Linked DNA regions of Homo sapiens: region 2 is linked to region 1. The links come from fine-mapping of genetic effects on gene expression. Tissue or cell type: pancreas. Region 1 holds a variant in brackets; the other region holds the start of a gene. All regions are shown on one strand. Distances are from middle to middle.

Region 1 (8,100 bases):
TCTCCCAGCTCCTTCACGGACTAAAAGTCACTTTCTCTTGAAAGCTTTTCCTGACTCCCACCTCTGCCAAGACTACATGTCCCCACATGACCCCATGATGCTCTCCACTCCCCATAAAACACCAGCTCAGATCTGCTGAACTCTTGCAATGTACTAGGCACTGTTCTAGTCCCTCTATGCACCCACGCATTTATGCTCACCTAGGAAGTGGGTGCCATTCTGACTGTAGAAACCAAGGCTTTCTGTCTCCCCTGACCCAACGAGACCCCACAAGTGGGGGCGCTGATCATTTCCATCTCCATCCCAGGGCCCAGCGCTGAGCCTGGCGTGATGGAGGCTGAACAGACAGGTGGAGGGGGAGGACAGGTGGAAGACAGGAGGCAGGTGGGGGTGCCCAGGCTACCTGCTGGGCGTCCCCTTCCGTGTATGGCAGCTTGGTGGACACGTGAAACATGATCTCCTTGTTGCGGAAGTTGCAGTACACAGATTCGGTCCCCGTCTGCCCGTGGGTCACGTCCAGGCCTCCTCGGAACCTGCCCCGGGGCCCCCCAGGCCACGCCTCAGTCTCCAGCCCTGGCCAGGCCTCCATGGGGCCAGGACAGGGGCTCCCTCCCTGCCCAGGAGCACAAGTCAGATTACACTCTGCTCAGCCCACCCTAATACTCACCCCTTAAAGTCCTGCAGTTTGACCTTCTGGCCAAGAAATTCAAGGAACTCCACGAAAGCGGGACTTTCCTCATTGGTGCTGAAGAGTTCTTCCTCGGAGGTCTGGGGATGAGGGGCCAAGGTCATTGAGCTGGAGTTCCTGAGAAGCCCCTGCCCTCTGTCCCTACTTGGACCCAGAGAGGGCCGGAGGGAGGACCTCTGGCAGCCCCTGGGCTCCTGAGTCCCTTGGCCGGTGTGCTGCCCTGGAAAAGGTGTGAGGCTCCAGATATGGGGCCAGGTGGGGAGGGGCGGCAGGGAGGAGGTGAGCACACCTGCCCAAGCTTCTGATAAATGACGCCAAACTTGAAGTTATTGCTGATGACATGCTCGTCAAAGGTGACGATGAGCCGGGAAGCCTGCAGGAGAGGACGCCGGGTGAAGAGGCTGCGTGTGCAAGCTGCCATTCGACGTGCTCTTCCCCCGTGCCAAGCACTGAGCCAGGCGCTCTACACACGTCACGTCATGTGATTCTCAGAACAAGCCTGGGAGGGAGACAGTCCAGCTGTCCCCTCTGAAACTCAGGTTCAGAGACCTTAAGTGACTCACCTAGGGTCAATGGCTTGCAAGCACATGCAGGCTTGGGATTTGACCCCAGGTCTGTTGGATTCCAAAGCTTAAGTTCATCGCTCCTGAGTTTTGCTGTGAGCCCCAGTCCTGCCATGCCAAGCCCACCCCTACTCCACTCTAACTCCCAACTCACTCCTCGGCTCCTCTGTAAACCCACATCATCCTCCCAGAACAGGACACGTCCCACCAATTTGCTGTGGGCATTGAGCAAGTTCTCCTCCTCACCTTAGGCCTCAGTTTCCTCTCCCATAAGCAGGAGGGGGGCCCTGATTTCTGAAGCCCCTTCAGGATACCTTTCCTGGACCACACCACCTCACACTGCTCCAGAATTCAGTCAGGGACCCAAGGGTTTACCTGTCTGTCCTCTTCCAGGAGGTGCCCCTGGCTCATCCAAGGCAGAAGCCCGTGCCCCTATCCCCACACTGTCACAGTGCCTAGAGCCCAGCTACCAGCATCCGAGCAGGAAGTGCCAGGGCTATTCTCTCTCTATAGGTCTCCTCTGGGATAAAAAGGCAAGGCCGGTAGAAAAGACACCCATTCCAGGGGAGGACTATGGCACAGCTTGCTCTCAGGAGGGTCCCCAAACATCACAGAGGTTCCAGATGTGAGGCCAGCCTCTAAGGCAGACAAACCGAGGCTTAAACGCAGGCCCTCCTATCTGCTGTGCACCCTGGGGGAAGGCACAGGCCCTTTCGGTGGCTCCTCTTCTGCAAATTGTGGACTTCACAGGGTTATTGTGAGGATTAAATGAGAGAACCTTGGGAAAGTATCTGGCACACAGAAGGTGCTTAATAAATGCTCAGTCTTCCAGTTACTCACCCACCCTCAGTGAGCTGTGCCCAGATCCAGCCATACCTTGGGGTAGAGCACAGGATAGAACCGATCCACATTGACGTCTTCACACACCAACTGCAGGAGGAGATAAGGGAGGGGTGTGAGGTGTGGGGCCAGGGAGGAGAGGATGGGGCTGCCTGGGCCTCCCTGGTCAAGGTCTGGGGAGGAGCCATGCTGGGAATGGCCAAGGCTAAAGCAGGACTCGGGGTTCACTGTTGCTCAGGGAACGGAGGTCCCCTGAGATCTGAAGGTGCTATAGAGAAAACCAAAAGCACACAGGCAGGGGACGGGGGCCTAGGAGAACACGTGGCAGCCCAAGACACGATGGGAACAAGTGAGAGACAGCCTCAGGATAGGGCGGCAGGCCAGGGCTAGGGCCTACAGCTGAAGGGGACGCGCCAAGGCAAGCTGAAGCCCCACAGGTGCCCATCTGCGGAGCCAGCCCGGGAAGCTCAGCGGAGCGGAGACCTCACCTTTGCCATCTGGACAACATTAGGGAACTCGGTGAGGCAGGAGATGGGGATGACATCATGGTATGTCCGGCACTTGGTCCTGAGAAGAGAAAGTCACACGATGAAGGCCTGGGCAGCAGGACAGGAAAATGGGAACCCCACCCCCCACAAAGTAAGGCCAGAAGGGGGTGGACCACAGCGAGGACCAGAGGTGATGATGGGTGTCAGGCTGACTCGGGTACTAACTTGCTGTGCAACCTCAAGCAAATCCCTGCCCCTCTATGGGCCTTGATGAAGAGAGTGGGTCAAATGAGATGGGCTCTGAGATTGTAAGACCTCAGCCCTTCCTGCCATCTCAGGACTCCCCCACCACCCTCACCTGAGCAGCAGCCGCAGGTGCTCTTGGTCCCCGATGACATCGTACTTGAGTGAGAAGACAAGGTGGCCGAGGGCAGCGTCCAGTGAGTAGTAATTGAAATGCTCCTGCAGTGGGAGGTGGGGGCCAGGGGAGTGGGTGAGGCTGAGCATGGGGCTTTTGGAAACAAGGCCAGAAAGCCAACCCACTCCCAGATGCAGGTCCTTCGCCGATAGCAGGTGTCACGGCTGATAGCAGACCCCACATCAGACAGACCTGCACTCAAAGCCCCACTCTGCCACTGACCAGCTGGGCAGCCTGAGGAGGTCACTTGGCCGCTCTGTGCCTCACTTTCCTAGTCTGCCAAATAGGAGGGAACCCTGTACTTTGGTGGCAGCCAGGACTGAAAGGGATGAAGTGCTTGGCTCAGTTCAGTGAAGGTGGGTAGTAACGCTGGATCTCTGGGTGCTCATCGAGTCTGGACCATATTCGGACCTGCATGCCTGTCTTCAGCCCTGGTCCTTCTCAGGGCTGGGCACCCAGCAGGTGCTCAATGAGCAAAAGCTGATTGCCCAACCTGTGACTCTGTGGCCCCTGAAGCCAGGGCCCATGAGAAACAGGAAGCGAAACATCTCACAACACACAGGGTGGCTGGCCAGGCAGGTTTCCACCCTCCTGTCTCACCTGGAGGAGAGGGCACAGGGTTGGGAAGACACCCTGGGGAGTATCAGGGGTGGCTGCGGCAGGGATGGCACCCCCAGAGAGGAGCCCAGGGCTGGCACCTCCGGGTGGGGAAGTCCCAAAGCCGAGGGCTGGAAGTTCAGGGAGACACCACCCAGCCTGGCCCCGGGCTCCTCCTGCCAACCTCAGCCCCAGCCCTAGCCCAAGTTCTGGGAGTGGAGCTGGCTGCCCGGCCACACCCGCCCCAGGAATCATCCTAGAAGTAAATCCTGTTCAAACATGAACACCTGTGCTCAGAGGCCAGGAGCAGATAGAGGCAGGGACCAGTGAATGTGCCCCACGAATCCGCAGCTCAGGGGCATTCTCAATGGACCTGGGGCAGAGTCCCCCAGCTCTGCCTGGGCACAGAGTGGCAGAAACCCCCAAATGCTTGACATCATCCAGCAGAGAGGGAGTGGCAGGCACTTGATAAGGAGGCCCCTGGCAGGGAAGTCCAGAGAGTGGGGAGGTTCCTTGGACACCCCCAAGCCCAGAGGAGCCCCCGGGACACAGTGGGAGAGCGGGCTCAGGGTCCCAGGAAGTCAACGCCCAAAGTCATCCTAACCTCCCCTCTCTGCCAGGATAGGGCCCAGTGCCTGAGCACCTGGCTGCTTCCCCCATTACCCCACCTGGAGTCAGGAAGGGGCCCTGCCATTCTGCCAGCCCTGGGGCTTCTCCCTCATTACTGCTAATCTGATCCTGGACATGAAGCCTCTTCTTTTTTTTTTGAGATGGAGTCTTGCTCTGTCGCCCAGGCTGGAGTACAGTGGCACCATCTCAGCTCACTGCAATCTCCACCTCCCAGGTTCAAGCGATTCTCCTGCCTCAGCCTCCTGAGTAGCTGGGATTACAGGCGCCCAGCACCACACCTGGCTAATTTTTGTATTTTTGTTAGAGATGGGGTTCTGCCATGTTGCTCAGGCTGGTCTTGAACTTCTGACCTCAAGTGATCTGCCCACCTCGGCCTCCCAAAGTGCTGGGATTACAGGTATAAGCCAGGGCGCCCAGCTGCCTCTTCTGACCCTCCAGTCTGCACTTCTTCAGAGCCTGCTGCACTCGAGGTCCACTACCTTCATCTGTTCCTACCTTCATCTGTCACTTGTCACTCTTTCAACAAACTTTTCTGAGTACCAACCATGTGTTTGGCATATACAGTACCCTCAGATCCTACCACCTGCCAGACCCAGCTGGGAACCTCTGGACA[G/C]CAGGTGCCTAGGATGCAGGTCTCGCTCCACCTCTAGGGCTCAGCTGGGAAGTGGAATTCCATGCTGGGTTCTGGGTTTGTTCCCAGGCAAAGGCTCCTGAACCTGGGCTTGCTGGTTTAGTCCCAGTCACAGTGGATCCTCCCCTAACTCCATTGGTTAGCACCGGTGTCTCCCAGAGTTAGGCCAATGGCCAGGCCCAGACTGAGGTCACACATCTTCCGAACCCCCAAGGAGTCACCCCCTCTTCCCAACACACACACACACACACACACACACACACACACACACACACACACACACACACATACAATGACTAGGAGCATGATCTCTCCCATGCACCTTAATGGAAGGTCAGCCAAAGCTGGTTCAATTCCCAGGCTTAGTCATTGTGTGACCTTGACTAAATCATTTACCTATCTGAGCTTCGGTTTCCTCTTCTGCAAAAACAGAATAATCCTGATATCACCAAGTAATTATGAAGACATGAAAACAGCTAACATTAACTGAGTATTTACCATGTGCCAGGTGTGGTTCTAGAAGCTTTGCGTGTACTTTTATTATCCCTGTTTTCACCGACGAGGAAAGTTAAATAACTTGCCCAAGGTCACACAAACAGTTAATGGAAGAGCCAAGATTCCCACACATGCCACGAGGCTCCAGAGCCCACGACACACTTCCCCATTTTGGCTCTATGCTGACGAAGAGACAGCACCCGGCCTGCAACCTGACACACACATTCCCGGCATGGGACCTCCCCTTGGCTCCCACAACACTCTGACAAGTTGTTGCTGGGCAGGGTCCCTGCTCTGTGCTGGTGGTGGGGCAGGGGCTGCATCAACCCATGACATTACTGTTCTCCTAACTCCAAGCTGCCCAAAGGGAGGGCCTGGGTCTATTGTGTTGGCTGCTGTATACCTGGTGCCTAGAACAGGGCCAGGCACACAGCTAGTGCTCATTATTTGCCACCCCTGACTGAGCACTTACTTTGTCCCAGACACCACTGTAAAGACCTTACAGATATCAGCTCACTAAAGCCTCACAGCAACCTCAGGAGGTGGGTATCATTACCACCAACCACCATTTTCACAGATTAGGAAATGAGGCACAGAGAAGTTAAGCGATTTACCCGATGTCCTGTGTAGTGGGTGGCAGAGCCAGGATTCAAGCCCTGGTAGAGTCTCTGCCATGAACCACCATGCCATAATGCTGCCTTTGCAATCAATGTTGAATGAACAAGTGATTCTGCCATGCATGTTCCCTGGGGACTGGGAGTGTGTGTGGTGGGAGCACATTCACTCAGGGCTCTAGGACTGTCACCCAGCCCTGGCCCATGGGTTCTGCTCCCTCCCAGGCCCACCTCGAATGGGGCTGAACTGTGACCCACCCCAGCCAGCCCCGCTGCACCAGCCGGCCACCCACCTTGCCGAGAAAGTGCTTCCGGTAGATGCGGGCTGTGGGGTTGCACTCGAGCTTCACCTTGGTTGTGGGCGACTGCAGTGGCTCTGTCTCGGGGATGCTGGTGATTTCGTGGTTGGTGCCCTCAATCCAGTAGCCCCCAAACTGGGGCAGCAGGATGAGGGGGAAGGGTCCTTCTCGCCCCAAGACCTGAAGAGGGACTCAGCTGAGAGCCACCCCACACTGTACCCCACTGGGCGCCCCAGGACACCCTCCCAACTCAGACCTGGAGCCGCTTCTGTCGTGGCTAAGGGGTATGAGGGGACAGGCCAGAGCCTGTGTGGGCCCCAGGGTTCTGCTCCAGCCCTTTCCCTCAGCCAGACCCAGACAGCGCCGAGACCCAAGTCTCTAACAGGGGGTGTGGGGGCAGGTAGAGCTGGAGCATGACCTTGGCCCAGGAGGCTGGAACATTTGGCTCAGAAGGCCTAAGGGTTCAAATGGGCTCTGAGGCCTTGGGCCTGCAAATTAAGTCTCCAGCCCGCAGCAAGGCCTGCAGGTCAGGCTCCTAAGGAGGAGGACCTGGTATCCAGAAGCCCTGTGTAAGTGCCTCCTGGGCTTGAGTAAGGGTGGGCGCGGGGTTCTAGCTGAGTACCTCGTGCACGCTCGGGTATGGAATGTAGTCCTCCTCTGTCTGCAAAACACAAACAGGGCAAGGGTCTCTCCATCTGTCCATCCTCCAGTGCCCCCAGAGCTGGCCTCTGCTTGGCCAGCCTCAGGGCTGAGAGTGCGGATGGGGCCCTGGCCTCATCACCTCTTACAGATGGGCAGGGGCTGAGGCAGGCTTAGCGTGCTGAGTGCTGGCATCTTCTGGGGCTCTCCTTGCCTGGAGAAAGGAGGGCTCACTGCCTCCCCAGAAGAAACCGCTGGACTGCCTGGAGGGCTTGCTGCACCCCACCCTAGAGCTTTGGATGCAGCGGTCTGGGCGGGGTCTGAGAATGTACATTCCTCACAGGCTCCCAGGTGGCACCGACGCTGCTGGTGTGAGGGCCTCTGCCCCAAAGAGAGCATCAGGCTTACTGCCCATGCACCCTCCTCTAACCCTCACCCTGTAGCCCTGGGCCCACTCCACCAGGCCTGGTCTTCTAGGGTCTCTGGGATCTCTCACCAAGAACCATATGCTAAGAAAAGTGGGTCAAAAACAAGAGCCTCCCCCTCATCTCGCTGAGTCCCCTGCCTCCGGTCAGTCTCCTCACCAGTGGCTGGGGGGCACCCAGGCCTGCCTCCCTATCACTCCCTCCCCATCCAGACAGCAGCTTATGGAGCAGGAGCTCATAAGTCTCCTAGGGCCTGAGTTGGAGTCTTCCTGCAACTGCTGGTCATCACTGGTTTCAGGGAAAACATTTGGCAGCAGCTGTCTTTGAGAGAGGAGGGCTTTGAGTTTGGGGTGGGGACGCCTGGAGAGGCAGGGGGAGTCTGCAGCAGTGAAGACCGAGAGGAGGAGCTAGAATAGAGGCCCCAGCCCTCTAGCAAGAGAGGGGTTCTCCCCATCACAGAACTCCTAGAGGGCAGGGGCTGGGTCTACCCTGCTAGAAGCTGTGCCTCCCCCCCTACCCCCGCACCTGGCACACTGTAAGACTACTTGCTGAAAGGGGATGGATTTCCTGCTTGATGGGCAGTGGTGGCAGCACTTCCCGGACCCCCTCCACCCCCTAGAGAGGGAGGCAGACTGCCAGGCCCACCTACTTTGAGGGGCGGCGGGAAGGAGCAGCGTTGTTCATCCATCCTGCTTCCCTGTAAGAGAAGGCAGCACTGTTACACCCTCCCAGGCCTGCCGCCAGGCGCTGCCTCCCCTCCCCAAGGCGTGCAA
Region 2 (8,100 bases), 54 kb after region 1:
TCAGTGTTTGCTTGCATTCACCTTCTTATCCCTTGAAACATACTCATCAGGCAAGTGCTATGATTCCCACTTCCTAGATCAAGAAACAGACTCAGAGGGAGAGAGGAACTCACCAAAAGTTGTACGGCTGCTCAGTGGCAATGTCAGAATTCGAACTTGGGTCTGCTTCCTCCGAATGGGGGTCCGAGGGAGGGTGGCCTCGGTTGGCAGAGGTATTAACCTGTAGAGTGGGCAAGTCACTTTCTCTCTTTGAGCCTCACCTCCTCATCTGACACAAAGCACCGGGCTGTGGCAGGGACCACAGGACCCAGCTCATCTCTGTGCCCCAGTGCCTGTCACAGTCCCTGGGATCCACTACATGCTCATTAAATGCTTAGTGAGTAGGCACACGAGGCTGCTCCCATTGTGCTGGTGCAAAGCAGGAGTATCATGTTTTGCTTCCTTTCTTGCAGTAGGAAAGGCTGGAATCCCAGTGGGACCTTTCTGTTTTGGGGTGTCTCCCCACCAGCACTCCTCTGCCTCTTTTCCCTTCTTCCTCTCTGAGTCACCACCTGCCTGACAGTGCTGGTCTTTAGCCCTAAATATAGAGCACATTTTGAGGCATAAAATGTCCACAAATGTGAGCAACATAGCTGCAGCCCACTGCCCTTGGGTACCCTCCTCCTGGGCTGACCCCAGGGTGGCCGCCCCAAGAAGCCCTGAGACTGGCGACCCCTGCTTGGCCCTAGTGTGGATCCAGAGGCTGCACTCTGCAGGAAGTCATCAGCCTGGGGCCCCATGGGCCCACACTGCCACCAGAGCCCAACTTCCTTTCCTTATTGGCACAGGGCTGCCACCTCACACCTCTGACTTTCCTCATCCCCCAGCCAGGCTGAGCTGCCTCCCAGAGCTGGAGCTGGGCCCAGAGAGGGAAAATGACTTGTCCGGGCCACACAGCCAGCAAGAGGCAGGGCCAGGCTTGGACAGGGAATCAGCACTCTGGCAGGCTTGGTGTGAGTGCCGAGGGAGCATGGTGGAGCTGGGAGCCCCTCCCCATCTAGCATGTCTGCCCTGGAGGCCTCACCTAAGCCCACAGAAGCACCTCTCCACAGCGCCAGTCTCTCAGAGGCACAGGGTGCCAGGGCCAGCCTGGCAGAGGTCCTGGCATGCAAGGAGGTGAGCAGAGAGTGCTGAGGGCTCCCTTCCCTTCACACCAGCTGGCCCCCAGCCTTGCTGGGAGGACAAAGCAGAAACTGGGGCCTGGTAATGCCTCTAGCAAAAGTGGAAAGGAAAGGGAACCCCAGAGCCGCTTGGAGCCTGCACTGGGTCCTGTCCTGTCTTGGGAAGGACCTGCAGAACAACACCTTCAGAGACAGCAAAGGAGCAGCCTGGGGAGAGGCTCCCGTGGCAACCCGCTGGGTATGTACACAGAGGGGAGGCAGGAGAGGAGGGTCCACTGAGTGGGAAGCACCAGGCAGTTTCCCAGGATTCTTGGGGCCAGTCAAGCTGGGTCCACATGAATCAGAAAAGAGGGAGGAAGGGGAGGCTTTGCTGGGGACGGTCGGGGGCCTCCACTCCCCTCCCCGGGTGATGAAGCATTAACATCCCACACGCAGGAAGCTGATGTAATTCATGCGTGTGTGCACCCATGATGGCCTGGGTGTGGGTGGGTGCATGTGCGTGTCTGCCAGGTTCATTTTTAAGGGCGTAGGGCATCCTCGTGTTCTTCCTGCATGCGCGTGTACCATGTGTGCACCCTGGAGGAGATAATGGAGGCAGACGACAGAAGACGAGGGCTTCTGAAAAGGCTCTTCTCCTTGCTGACAACCTCCGTCTCTCTGTGTGTACACACGTGCCAGCATCTGGATGGTGTGACTCTCAGTGCTTGTGTGTCAGGCAGAGTCGGGGGCAGGGGTCTTGGCCTGGGTGTGCCCGTGTGTTCCTGTGTCTGGGTCTCAGGGTATCTGTCAGTCTAACTGTATTTGCGTTTGTGTCTGGCCGTGCTCAGGTCTCGGTTGTTTGCACAGCACATGCGGCTGCTCAGCAGCCTCTGACAGCCAGGACAAAGGCCTCCGTAGACAGATGGCAGCATGGAGGACAGATCTGCCCGAGGAGTCCTCAAAGGGCCTCTTGGCCCCAGAATTTGACAGCAGGGCAGGGGCAGGGCCAGGTGAGAGGGAGGTGGAGGCCCTGCTGTGGGAGCCTGAGGCCTAAGTGGCAGAGACCTCTCTCCCTGCTGCCCTCCAAGAGGCCAAAGGAAGAATCCTTCTTGTCTCCTAAGGGTGGAAGGTAGTTAGAGCCAGGAGAGGGGCCTCCTGAGACCCCTGCCAGGCAGGCACCTTGGGAAGAAGAGAAGAGGAGAGGGCTTTGCCCAAGCAAGCTGGGAAGGTCCCAGGGTGAAAGCACCATTATGGTGCTCCACGGGACAACCCTCCCTCCATGGGAAGGGGTGGCAAGGCAAGCCTAGGACTCTGGACCCTCTCCTCAACCTGACCCAGCTTCCAGCCACAGGCACCCTCACCTCCTGGCAGCAAAGGGGAGCAGGTCCACATGGACCACTCCACCACGGCGTTCACCCTTCCTCCTCTCCACCGCTGTGGAGATCTTCTCCCATCAAGAGTCAGAGTACCACGATTCTAGACCTTGCTGAAGGTGACTAGGTGACCTCAGGCAGTTCATTTAGCCTCTCCGAGCCTCAGTTTCCTCACCTGTGCAATGGAGGCTTCAGCGCCTGCCCTGAAATATTGCTGTGAAGGGGGAAATTGCTCGTGCCACCTGAGGATTAATCATTACCCTGGAACCCTTCCCAAGGCCATCAAGGAACACGCACCCCTTACCAGACCTTCCAGCTGCTGGGGGCTCTCAGAGTGAGGCTGAGGTCATGGAGAAGGGAATGGGGGGCCCCCATGGCCAGCTGGACCTGATCACTGCCTCCCCACTCAGCCACAGCCCTCAGGGCCCTGTGCCAGTCCAGAAGCCCATTCAGGGACACCTTTGGCCAATGTTCTGTTTCATCTGCGAGGCAACCTTCCCCAGTGCCCCAACCATAGCGTTTTCCCCCAAACACCCTCAGGAAGGAGGGACCACTACCTGTGCAGGGGGGGCCAGGAGCCTCCTGAGAGCCTCATATGGGGAGGAAGTGGTACCATCTCACCCCCATTGCCTTTCTCTCCTACTTCCACCTGGCCAGCTTCCCTCAGTGCCCCTCCTGCCTCAGTGCCCCTTCCCTCAGTGTCCTTCCTGCCTGCCGCCCCAGGGGCCTGACCTCTGACTTGGCAGGGAGGGGAATGGAGCCCGGGGACAGAGGCCAATGAGCCCTGAGAACAGTGGATGTTCTTCCTGACCCCACCACCGGGCCTGTGCTATGACCCCAACAAGGACTCCGAGGGCATGCACAGGCTGGGGTCTGTTATGGTAGGGAGGGGGCCGCTCACCTCCGGAGACTGTGTGTGTGTGCAGGTGTGCGTACACAAGGTTTCTTCCCCAAGCCCAGGCGCCCCGCAGCTGGCACCAAACCCTGCAGGGCACGGAAACCGCCCCGTGAATTCCCACCGAGTCCTCAGATCCTGCCGAGCCAGGGGAGGCGACGAGGGGGCGCCCAACTTCGTGACGCGTGTGCCCCGCTCTGCCGCGGGGGTCAGGGACAGGGGAATGCGTCCTGTCTCTGGGGATGCAAGGACATCACCGCCCTCCCCGCTCAGGGTCCTTGATCTGAGGCCCCCACTTCCCTCCTCTGAGGACAGGAGCGCCACCCTCTGGGGGGCGCTAGGGCTTGGGCCCCTCCCCAGGGATGGAGGAAACGCGCCCACTTCCCACAGTCCCTCCTCTAAACCCCAGGCGCCCCCACCTCGAGGTGGGCGGAAAACTGGACTCCCCACCCACCCAGGGGGGTGGGACCAAAGCCCCCTGGCCGCGGCCTGGACCAAGTCCAACAGGCTGGGGGTTCAGCCGGCTCAGTCCAGGCCTCCCCCCACTTCTCCAGCTGCTGTCAAGACCGGGCTGCGCGAGCCCAGCTGCGCCCACCCCTCGCCCCTGGAGACCCGGGTCCCCCACGCGTTCGCCCCCACCCTCCGTCCCCGCCCGCCCGCGCGGGGTCTTCGCTGCGAGCCGACGGGAGTCTGGACACCTCTGTCCCCTTCCCCTTTCCAGGGCCGCAGCCCTGGCGGGGCGCACTCACCCAAGGGCCTGGGCCGGGGGCGTCCTGGGCTCGGCACTCTGGTGCCCGCGGCCGCCGCTGCAGCTCTGCTCAGATGCGGCCGGCGCTCGCCGCCGCCGCAGTTCGGGGAGGGGGACGTCACATGACCGCGGAGCGCTCCTTCCCCGGCGCCGCTCCCCACTCACTGCGGAGCCCAAGCCGCGGGCGCGGGAGCGGCGGGGAGGCCCCCGCCCTGCCGCCCCGCCCCGCCGCAGGTCCTGGAGGAGGGTTCTCGGTGCCCCCATTTTACAGGTGGGGAAACTGAGGACCAGAGAGGGGCAGGGACTGGCTCAAGGTTACACAGCTAGACAGTGGCAGAACCTGGGCGACAGCCCAGCTGTCCAGGCAACAGCTCATGCTCCAAGGGGACTGGGACAACTTCTGGATCAAGTGGAGACGTCGGGATAGGTGGGGCCCACGGCCCCCATGGGCTCCGCTTGTCTGCAGGCGCGGGAGGAAGGCGCACAGGCTTCGCTGGGCGAGAAAGCTGCTGTGCCCTGGCTGACGCCCTCCTCACCCGGGCGCTCGGCGCGCTTCCTGGCAGAGGCCACGCGGTTGACCCTCGCCAGCCCATTCGCGGCTCTTGGACTTTGTCTCTGGACTGGGCAGCTCGCCCCCGCCCCAGCCTAACCCGGGCCCAGGGCGGGTGTGGGGAGGGGAGCCACAGGCTACGGAGAAGTGGAAGGGAGGCACCCGGAAGAGAGTGGGATCAGAACAAGAGTGAAAACCCAGGCAGGGAGGGGGCGGCAGAGATCACCTCGGCCTGACTTCCAAGGCCCAGGGAGAGTTAGAGACTTGCCCAAGGTCCACAGCAAGTGAGCGGCCTGCCCACTCGAGTCCCTTCTTTGATGGTCAACAGAGCCTGAGGCTCCTGTGCCCCACTCCCCACCAAGGGGGAGCCCTCACCCACACCTCTTTCTGTTCTCCACTGAGCTCCCTCCCCGGGGAACAGCCCACATGAAGCAAAGAAACACGCAGTGGGTCGGCAAGGCCAGAACTGGGGACAACGGGTGAGGGGTATGGTTGGTGGCTCCAAGGTCATGAACTCGTCACAGAACACTCGTGTTCCAGGGGGATCTCTGAAATCTCTGGATCTCACCCCAATGTTCTAAGAACTGGGAAAACAGGCTGCAAAAGGTACAAAGACAGACCTCTTTCTCAACCATTTCGAATTGGTGGGTCAAGCCGACAGGGCCCTCCAAGGTCAACAAGTCCAATAGGCCCACTTGACAGATAATATTTAGGGAGGGGAAAGTCCAAGACATGTACTCAATATATTTCTTGAGCATCTACTGTGTGCTTAAAACCACAACTGTTACTTCCAGCTCCCACTATTTTCCCGGCCACATGGGCTGCATTTCACAAAAGGAAAGATCCGAGGTCTTCAGCAACTCTTACATCAGCCTCTGGAGGATCTGAGACATGCAAGCCTCCGGGTTTTCAGTCCCATAGGGGCTGGGGACCAGAGCCATGTTTTCCGGTCAAGACTCTAATCCCCGTGGAGAAAAGGTGAATAAGGGGGAATAGCAGGAAATGCCCCACCCTCTTCCCACGCATCCACCCACCTGTGAAAGGGCAGAGGGGAAGGTAGATCAGGCACTTGTTCTTTTCAGTCCTCCCTCCAGCAAGCTTCCCTAGCTGTATATGGGAAAGAGACCCCAGCCCAGGGGGGTTTCTCAAACTTCTAAGAGTGCAGGAGCGGTCTGTAGACTCAGATTCAGATTCAGTGGGCCTGGAGCCTGAGCTCCTGCATTTATAATGAAGCTTCGTGGCTGCAGACATCCTGAGCAGCACTGGTAGTACAAGGCAAGTTGTCAGGGCAGGAGGAAGACTCCTGCGGTATCACATGCTCACTCATGGACCACCCAACCCGGGGGGCCCTTTGATCTCCTGCCTAGGAATACACCAGGACTATATAGTTGGCTCAAACACTGTAATAAAAAGGCAAGAAGTTGAATGAGGCTGGCCGAGGCGCTTCTGGGGATGATGGTGAAGGGACTGTGGGGCATAGCAACTGCCCTAGACAGGTATGTCCTGCAGGGCTCTGGTCCTGGGAGATGCTTGGTCAAATACATCCTACTTAGGAAATGCCAGCAGAATGCCTATAGACCTTCAAGGGCAGCATGTACTGGGTGGGGCTGGCTCATCTTCAGCAGGGGCGGGGCTCACAGATCTCAGAAGTACATGGATTCCAGGATCCTTTTAAGCACCATCTCTCTACCCATCCTCTCGCTTTTTTATGCATTGCTCCCTGAATTCAATTCTGAGCACAATCTTCATGCTTCTTGCTTCCCTAACTCCTGTTCCAAAAGGGCCCCTTTCTCCTCCACGCTTTAAGACAGAGACCCTCAATTCTGGCCAGGCATTGCTGATGGTACATCCCAGAGTGCTGAGTGGAGACAAAGGTGTCCCACCTGAGCTGGAGGGAGGGGGCAGATGGAGGCACTGGAGATGCAGAAATGCAGCAAGCCAAGGGGTACAGCTGTGTGACCTCTTCATGGTCCCATAACCTTCTGGAGTCTGGACCTGCAGACTCCAAGGTCCTTAAGAGCTCAAGAGCCTATTAGCCTGGGGGTACTGAATGTCCCCGACCCTGGCTGAGCAGACCAAAGAACGAAGTCTCTTCTATGCCAGGCGTCTCTATTTCTTCTTTATAATCAAGGAGCTTTTCAATTACAGCATTTTCCCCTTTACAGAAAACCTCCCTCAATGCAAGAGGCTTATAATCTCCCATGTGTCCTGGGGGGCACCATTCTGAGACTGTCAGGGCCCCTGGCGAGGAGGCAGCACGTGCCGTAGGGGGCTGGGCACAGAGCTTGGCATGCAGCCTAGCTACTGAGGGGGAAGATTGGACAAAGGCCCCGGAGCTTTGCTTTCCCTGTCCTATTTCAATCCAAACCACTCAGGACTGACCACTCACGCATGGCTGCCTCTGGGCACAAGCCTTGTCTCAGACACTTAATACATTGCGACCCAGCCACCATCTCTGTGCTCCCTATCACTGAGAAATGAAAGCTGGCTTTAAAAATCTGGCATCCAAAAAGGCTGGAGAACGAAAACATGGGTGGCACCACGGTAAACTCCAAATAATGCATGAGACTGCAGGTGAGGGAGGGGGGAACAGTCCTAAAATGGGAATGATGCCTCTTGGAAATAACTCCCCATCTCTGCCCGCCCACTCCTTCCCAGTCAGATCAAATGGGAGAAAAACTGAGATAGGAACTGCCCACCAGAGCAAGTAGGGGAAGAAAACCCCAAAGCAGCAAGTCCTCAAGGTGTGCTGTCCACAGAGCCACAGGTAAGGTCTAGGAAAGGCCGGCAAGGAGGGTGGGCTTCAGGGGCGGCTTGGAGCAGAGGACAGTTCCACTCTAACCACAGCAAGGCAGGATGAAGAGTGGCAGTCGGCGCCAGGGCACACGCATCAGGGAAGGGCCAGCGGCCCCCGTCTGGGTGGGAGGCTGCCAACCTGGTGCAGCAGACATGACAGAGACTACCCCTGGGGTTAGAGGACTTTGGATCATGAATAGTTAGGAAGTCCCTGTTTTGAGGACAAAGAAGAAAAGCCTGAAGGTAGGGACAGTACTGGTCAAACCAAAGTAGTAAAAAGAGCTCTCCCCCAAGGGGCCACGGGAAAACTTCTAACAGATTCCAAAGTAGTCATTCATTTTTCCTTACTGAGGATGTATCATGCGGGCCGCTGTGGGAATACAGTGGTAAGATGGCCAGAGCCCTGCTCTCAGGGAGCTACAACAGTCTAGCACTAATTAGGTTGATTCATTTGTGGGGGACTGAATGGTTTTAGGTGCAGACATAAAATCCAGCCTGGCCCTAACTCTGGCTTCCAGTACAGGAAATAAACAGTATACTCTAGTTCCAGAACTCCACAGTCTAGCATGACTTGGAGCCTCCTTCATCCAGAGAACAAG

The links. PIP is the estimated chance that this variant, and not a neighbour inherited with it, causes the effect.
Region 2: it holds the start of RAP1GAP, and the variant in region 1 is fine-mapped to the expression of RAP1GAP in pancreas (GTEx, PIP 0.98).

What each region holds. Positions count from the first base shown.
Region 1 is chr1:21,611,049-21,619,148 of GRCh38, forward strand. RAP1GAP (RAP1 GTPase activating protein) reads right to left here. Exons shown (of 25, transcript NM_002885.4): 5 at 7,977-8,024; 6 at 6,886-6,924; 7 at 6,258-6,443; 8 at 2,938-3,041; 9 at 2,580-2,658; 10 at 2,128-2,181; 11 at 978-1,061; 12 at 668-768; 13 at 404-533. Among named protein-coding and RNA genes, the nearest start is that of LINC02596, 29 kb to the left of the region's middle. RefSeq lists enhancers at 1-723, 7,594-8,100 and a silencer at 2,035-2,327. The variant G/C (reference allele first, on the strand shown) is at 4,838.
Region 2 is chr1:21,665,098-21,673,197 of GRCh38, forward strand. RAP1GAP (RAP1 GTPase activating protein) reads right to left here and starts at 4,260. Exons shown (of 25, transcript NM_002885.4): 1 at 4,157-4,260. RefSeq lists enhancers at 961-1,461, 4,980-6,179 and a silencer at 4,182-4,331.